Linked DNA regions of Homo sapiens. The gene in region 2 interacts genetically with the main gene of each other region. Each region holds a gene or a part of one and is shown on either strand. Other genes may lie near its edges.

The links.
Region 1: changes in NAA15 (region 2) and EGFR together harm fitness more than expected from each alone (negative genetic interaction), as found in Homo sapiens cells (one large-scale study listed by BioGRID).

The regions. Positions count from the first base shown.
Region 1 is NC_000007.14:55,196,887-55,200,711, reverse strand, and holds part of EGFR (epidermal growth factor receptor isoform a precursor), read right to left. Parts: intron 1,996-3,825; coding exon 1,849-1,995; intron 397-1,848; coding exon 299-396; intron 1-298. UniProt on the Homo sapiens protein: Receptor tyrosine kinase binding ligands of the EGF family and activating several signaling cascades to convert extracellular cues into appropriate cellular responses.
Region 2 is NC_000004.12:139,381,292-139,385,116, reverse strand, and holds part of NAA15 (N-alpha-acetyltransferase 15, NatA auxiliary subunit), read right to left. Parts: intron 286-3,825; coding exon 139-285; intron 1-138. UniProt on the Homo sapiens protein: Auxillary subunit of N-terminal acetyltransferase complexes which display alpha (N-terminal) acetyltransferase (NAT) activity. The NAT activity may be important for vascular, hematopoietic and neuronal growth and development.

The DNA.
Region 1 (3,825 bases), on a different chromosome or scaffold from region 2:
TAGACCATGCTTCTCTCTTAGACCCAGCTGAGGCTTTGGCTAGCCGGACAGTGAGGACGAGCACCAGAGGAGAGTTCAGACGGGGAGGGGGAGATGGAGTTGGGTGGGCCCCACTCACGGATGCTGCTTAGTTCACGATGTGGCCTGCGCCTTACTGAGGCTTGCTCTAATGCGCTGGAGGGTTTAATAATGCGATCTGGGACACAGGGAGGCCAGGCTGGCATGTGACAGAACACAGTGACATGAGATGCTCATTAGAGGGACTCTTCCCAATGGAAGCACAGACTGCAATTTGTACCTGAATGACAAGGTAGCGCTGGGGGTCTCGGGCCATTTTGGAGAATTCGATGATCAACTCACGGAACTTTGGGCGACTATCTGCGTCTATCATCCAGCCTGGGGAAGGAATGAGAAAAAACAGTGCAATTAGAACACTGGAAGAAATGATAAAGATGGCATTGCTTAAAGAAGGCATTGGTGATGCGACACTTCCAGTCAAATAAGTGATGAAAGAACCAAGTCTTTGTGGTAGACTTTTCTGTCTTGGCCAGCTAGTACTGGTTACTGTTTAAAGACCATGCCAGCACTGTACATTTGAATCAGAATAACAATAATGCCCTCTAGTTTTTCTACGCCCACTCTTCCTGGGGTCAGCATCCTGTGTTACGCCTGAGGGGATGGAGCAGTGTGGGTCTGTACAATTGCTCTCCATGAACTATCCTGACTGCAGGGTGCCCTGCACCAAGGTCCTCACTCAACATCCACCCTTAGCATTCCTTCAGGTAGGAAACCAGATGCAACTTAGAAAAATAGGCTTTAAAGAATTTGGGGTTGGGACTGGGCCCCTACCCCCGGCGTCTCCAGTACAGCACATACCCAGTGGGCATGCATGCAAGTGAGAAGGCTGGTGGGCATGCATGCAAGTGAGAGGGCTGGCTGTGCTGGCAACTTCCACAGGAGGACACACTGTTAACTGTGCTGCTGCATGTGACTACCCAACAATCTAAATCCAGATTAAACAATTTGGAGGTATGGCTACTGCCTGGAAATCCTCATGCCTCTTGAGGGATCACATTTATTTTCCATCCACAGCATATCAAGCTATTTTAGGCCAGACTGCTATGTGACCTTAGACAAATCACGTGGCTTCTCTGGATCACAGCTTCCTTAGCCCAAACCAAGGAAGTTAAAAAAGATCAACTCTGTGGCCTAGAGTTCAGAAAGGCATTAATATTTACATTAACTTGGCTCTGTCATATTCCCTATACAACTTTCTTTTGCAAATGCTCATCCCATGCATGTAATGCTACCTCCAGAGCCCACTGCACTCGTGAATCTGGTAGAATAATAGCATCAATCAAATTACACACTCTTATTTAGATTGAAATGTTTAAATGCCACACTGCAGAGACTTCACATAAATCCACTGGTTTAAAAGGTTTAAGTCAAAGCAGAAATGTTGACTCTATTAGCCTTATGTTGTTACTCACTGCCATGCATTTAAAAACATTCAGTCTCTCTGGTAACAGGCTTCAAAATATAGGGCAACTCGGTATTTCATTGAGTAACTCAGCGAATAGAATATTTTGGTGTAATGGCTTGCGGAAGACTTTAGTTTTATTTATTTGCTTGCAAACATGGGCAAATGTCAGGTCATACTGCCCAATGAGTCAAGAAGTGTCTTTAAAAGAATGCTTGAAGGGGTATTTACAGATGTTTCTGGATTTGTGTGCCTGCCTTAAGTAATGTGATGACATTTCTCCAGGGATGCAAAGGCCTCAGCTGTTTGGCTAAGAGCAGCCACCAAGGCTCAGCTAGGCAGTGTGGACAGACCCACCAGTCACTCACACTTGACCATGATCATGTAGACATCGATGGTACATATGGGTGGCTGAGGGAGGCGTTCTCCTTTCTCCAGGATGGAGGAGATCTCGCTGGCAGGGATTCCGTCATATGGCTTGGATCCAAAGGTCATCAACTCCCAAACAGTCACCCCTGAGAGGATGAAGCAAGAAAAGAAGGCAGTGGGATCATGAATGAACAATCACAATCCCTTGCTTTAGTCATCATTACTGGTTACTGTTTCTTGATGTTTAGAAACCTACATTTCTGTAGTCTTGGGCAATTTGCTTCAATGCTGGAAGCCTCAGTCTACCTCTCTATAAAGTGGGGTAATAGCAGTATCTGTTTCACAGGATTGCTGTAAGGACCCAACAAGATAATACAACTGAAATGCTTAGTGCAATGCCCAGCAAGTAGTAAGTGACTGATAAGTGGTAAACTTTGGTAATTAACAATAAAGACAACAGTAACTCTACTAGCATAAGTATTATGCTCCAGACAGGATACACACTCAGTCACCTGCTCTGAGGGACCTGTATCTGCAGAATGAGGAAGATGCAGATTCTGAACAGGGCTGTAAACTGCACATTTTTAGATCATAAAAAAATTGGAAATGAAAAAGCTTAAGTTCCATTTGATAAAAATAAAAACCTCAGGAAGAAACTGAATCCCTGAACAGACCAATAATGAGCTCCAAAATTGAATCAGTAATAAATAGCCTACCAACCAAAACAAAGCCTAAGACTAGATGGATTCATAGCCAAATTCTACAAGATGTACAAAAAAAGCTGGTACCATTCCTACTGAAACTATTCCAAAAAAATTGAGAAGGAGGGACTCTTCCTTAACTCATTCTATGAGGCCAATGTCATCCTGATACCAAAGCTTGGCAGAGATACAACAAAAAAAGAAAACTTCAGGCCAATATCTCTGATGAACATAGACATAAAAATCCTCAACAAAATACTGGCAAATCGAATCCAGCAGCACATCAAAAAGCTTAAGCCACCACAATCAAGTCGGCTTCATCCCTGGGATGCAAGATTGGTTCAACATATGCAAATCAATAAATGTGATTCACCACACAAACAGAACTAAGGACAAAAGCCACATGATCATCTCAATAGATGCAGAAAAGGCTCTCAATAAAATTCAACATGTTTAAAATTCTCAATAAACTAGGTATTTAAAGAACAAACCTCAACATATTAGCCATCTATGGCAAACCCACAGCCAACATCATATTGAATGGGCAAAAGTTGAAAACATTCCCCTTGAAAATTGACACAAGACAAGGATTCCCTCTCTCAACACTCCTATTTAACATAGTATTGGAAGTCCTGGCCAGATAAATCAGGTGAGAGAAAGAAATAATGGACATCCAAACAGGAAGAGAGGAAAACAGCTATCTCTGTTTGCAGATGACATGATCCTATATCTAGAAAACCCCATAGTCTTGACCCAAAACCCCTTAAGCTGATAAACAACTTCAGTGAAGACTCAGTTGTACAAAATCAATGTACAAAAATAATTAGCATTCCAATATGCCAACAACAGTCAAGCTGAGAACCAAATCAGGAATGCAATTCAATTCACAATTGCCACAAAAAGAATAAAATACCTAGAAATACAGTAAACCAGGAAAGTGAAAGATCTCTACAATAAGAACCACAAAACACTGCTTAAAGAAATCAGAGATGACACAAACAAATGGAAAAACATTCCATGCTCATGGATAGAAAGAATCAATATCATTAAAATGACTATACTGCCCAAAGTATTTTATAGATTCAATGTTACTCCTATCACACTACCAATGAGATTCTTCACAGAACTAGAAAATACAATTTAAAAATTCACATGGAACCAAAAAAGAGCCTGAATTGCCAAGGCAATCCTAAGCAAAAAGAACAAAGCTGGAAGCATGATGCTACCTGACTTTAAACTACAGGGATACAGTAACCAAAACAGCATGGTACTAGT
Region 2 (3,825 bases):
TGCCTGTTTTCATACGATCACAATGTAACATATACACACTGCCTCTTCCATTCTAAAAACATGTACCTTATATTATTGTTGATTCATTAAAATTACTGAAGTTGTTTTAGAAGGCTAAGGATAAAATAAAGTGATTACCTGATAATCTGTGTGGCAATGAATCAGAATTCCTTTTCAGAAAAGTTTCATTAAAATTCTTTGGATTCGTTGCTCCAAAAAGACGATTCATTTCTTGTTTTAATACTGTTCTAACTGTATCAGATAAATCTTTACTTTCACACACTGCTGAATAAATTAAAAATAAAATCTTAGCAGTTGAATACTCTGATAAAGTTTACAAAAGTTTATTTTTGTTTGTGTTTGAGACAGGGTCTTGCTCTATCACCCAGGCTGGAGTACAGTGGCACAACCATGGCTCACTGTAGCCTCAACCTTCCAGGCTCATGCAATCCTCCCACTTCAGCCCCCCAGGTAGCTGGGACTTCAGGTGTGCACCACCACACCCAGCCTATAGGAGTTAAATTACCTAATGATGAGGCCAATGAAACATGGCAATTATATACAAAGACAAGATAAAACCTACTGATAATTTAACATTTGCAAAAAGAGCTTACCTATATAAACTGACTGACTGATTGAGACAGACAAGGTTTTACTGCCACCCAAGCTGGAGTACAGTGGCGCAATCATGGCTCACTGCAGCGTCAACCTCCCAGGCTTCAGTGATCCACCCACCTCAGCCTCCTGAGAAGCTGGGACCACAGGTGCAAGCTACCACGTCCAGCTAATTTTTCTATTTTTTTGTAGAGACAGGGTTTCGCCATGTTGCCCAGGCTGGTCTCCAACTCCTGGGCTCAAGAGATCTGTTCACCTTGGCCTCCCAAAGTGTTGGGATTACAGGCATGAGCCATCATGCCCAGCAATACACATTAAAAAGAATGTATGTCAGCAGAACAATCTAATGTTCTAAAGGCATTCAAATAATTTTATTAACACGAGATTCATTTCCAGAAAGGAACTGTAAGCAAAGGAGATGACAAAACAAGTAGTTTCACAGCCTTCTAAACCCCTAGAGCTGCCCCCTCAACCTTAAGGTCTGCAAAGCAGCAACTTGGGAATACCCACCTGGTAAATAGTATCACAGCCAACTATGTAGTGCTGAAGACAACAAATTTTCCTCACCCTCCCTATCTTCCTCTATACCCAAGTAAGGCACACGTTTCAATTAAAAACAAAAGAAAACATGGTTGATGTCATTGACCTTTATTTCAGAAACTATGTAAATTGAGCTATCACTGTATAATAAACTCCCAAGGACCACCAAAGCATTTTCCTATTAATAAATAGGCTGGGCACGGTGGCTCACACCTGTAATCCCAGCACTTTGGGAGGCCAAGGCGGGTGGATCACTTGAGGTCAGGAGTTCGAGACCAACCTGGCCAACATGGCGAAACCCCGTCTCTGCTAAAAATAAAAAAATTAGCCTGGCATGGTGGTGTGTGCCTGTGGTCCCAGCTACTCAGGAGGCTGAGGCAGGAGAACAGCTTGAACCTGGGAGGTGGAGGTTGCAGTGAGCCAAGATCATGCCACTGCATTCCAGCCTGGGTGACACAGTGAGACTCTGTCTCAAAATAAATACATAAATGAATGAATGCACTGTTGTCATCATATTCCCAGGCCTTGGGATTTAGAGATGATTCCTCTGGATTGAATCCAAGTTATACTTTGTTTCATTATCATTTTGGTATAAAGAGAGAGTCTGGAGCTTTGAAGCCAGTTAGACTTGGGTATGGATCCAGGCTTGGATAAGTCATAACCTCTCTGAACCTATTTCTTGATCTATAAAACTGGGGTGATATCTAATCTAAAAGATTTACAGTAAGGAAAAGCTACTGTGTAAAAGTGCTAATTATGTAATAGGTAGTCAATAAATCATAGTTACTATTTTTATCATAGTGTGAAAACATTACGTAGATTTTCCTTATGGCTGGGAACTATGGTGATGACTTTCAAATTTTCACTTTAATCAGGTATTTGTACTGCGACAAATACATATTCCATATCCATAACTTATGTGAAGCAAAAGTTTCACAGAACACTTACTGTGTGCAACATATGCTGATCTTTTCTACACTATTCTATTTTTATTTTGGGTTTTTGAGTGCTGGTAATGACCCACTATCCTGCTAATGGATCATTAATCTAAGTTTAAAAAATATAATGAACTCAGTAGGAAACATTTTCTAAGTGAAATATTCTATACATAATTATTAGCTGAATAATTCACTGACATGCTCTTTGTTGGTTAAATAGCATTTCTTCTATTATTCTATAAAACTGGGTGGTTCAAGTAAATGAGCTATAGTGAAATACTTTAGTTTAACCTCTACTATGGCTGTACTTTCAACTTGGTTTTGTCAATCTATCAATACTTGTTTTTCAGTGGAAAAGCAGGAATAGAGAGGAAACAGAAAAAAGTTATTAAAATAGGTTACAGCCAACTGCAATGACATTAATTATCTCAAAAAGAATGTATCTTCTGTACAATAAAAATTATTTACATAGGCCTTGCTGGTTTGCCTGAAATGCTTTCAGGATACTTTACATGTAAAAAATATCTGCATAGTTTGTATCATAGTTGATGAAGAGAGGGGTAGGCAAGGGGTTTTTATGGTTTTCATTATCTTTTTTTAACTTGTTTTAATCAGATTAAACAATCTCCCAGAAAAATTAAAACTGCTAAAAAAAACTCTACCAAAACTGAAGCAAATAACTTCACTAACAGCTGATTCCAAAAAGTTTGAGGCCTACTAATTTTCTCCTAAACTTTTCTGGATATTTTCCTGGAAATTACAGTTCCAGAAAACTAGAATTGTTAACCTCCAGGAAAATATCAATTACAAAAAGGATAAAAAAATTCTACTGCAGTAAAACCCAGAATGTCCTATGGAATTCTGTGTAATGAAATTTTATGTGTACCCTTAAGAAAAGGAGCAACATCATATGTCACAGATTATCAGATGTCCATTTACTGCTAAAGACTAGTGGGCAGGGGAGAAAAACTCTAAAAAGCCTTTGAATGTGGTAAAACTGACAAAAAACATCAAGGCCTCAGGAAAGTAGCAAATCCCCTACTAACTCAATTACCTTCCATGAAAGAGTAATAAGTCTTGAGAATCAAGGAAAAGTAATAACTGATGAGCGAGAAGGGGAATATAAAACCTTTTCTAAGGGGTTTTTGATTTGGGTCCTTTGACATCTTAAACTGGAATGTTTGGTTCATGCTATTAGCTTATTAACAGAATGAATAAATTAAGCAAGCACCAATGGTTAAAACACACAATGAAAAGGTGGCTGATTCTTAGCAAAAGGGATTGCACAGGGTTCTCAGGCTAGCTGGCATTGTTAATAATTTGGGTAAAAAATGTTCTTATTTTGTGTGAGGTAATGACTGTTCACTACTAGGTTATAGTACAACCGAGTAAGTGATTACAACTCAAAAACGGCAAAATAAATGAGAAAATTAAACAAAGCTTAAAAAAATAAAAAATTTAATAATTTAGTAAGTATTAAACAAGGTTTAATAAACAAATTAGATTATGAAAGAAGGTTGGAGGAGACATACATAAGTATAAAAAACATATCTGCAGATCAAAGAAAAATGAGTTTGTGCAAATGGGAGAGGAAAAAGACCTAAGTTTCACTGTAGATCAAGGCAGCCAAATAGTGCTAATTTTAAAAGCAGTTAGGAGAATATAAACATTTAAGAAAATAATAAGACAAATAGAATATATAAGCACCTATCTTTTACTTAGCACTGACCAG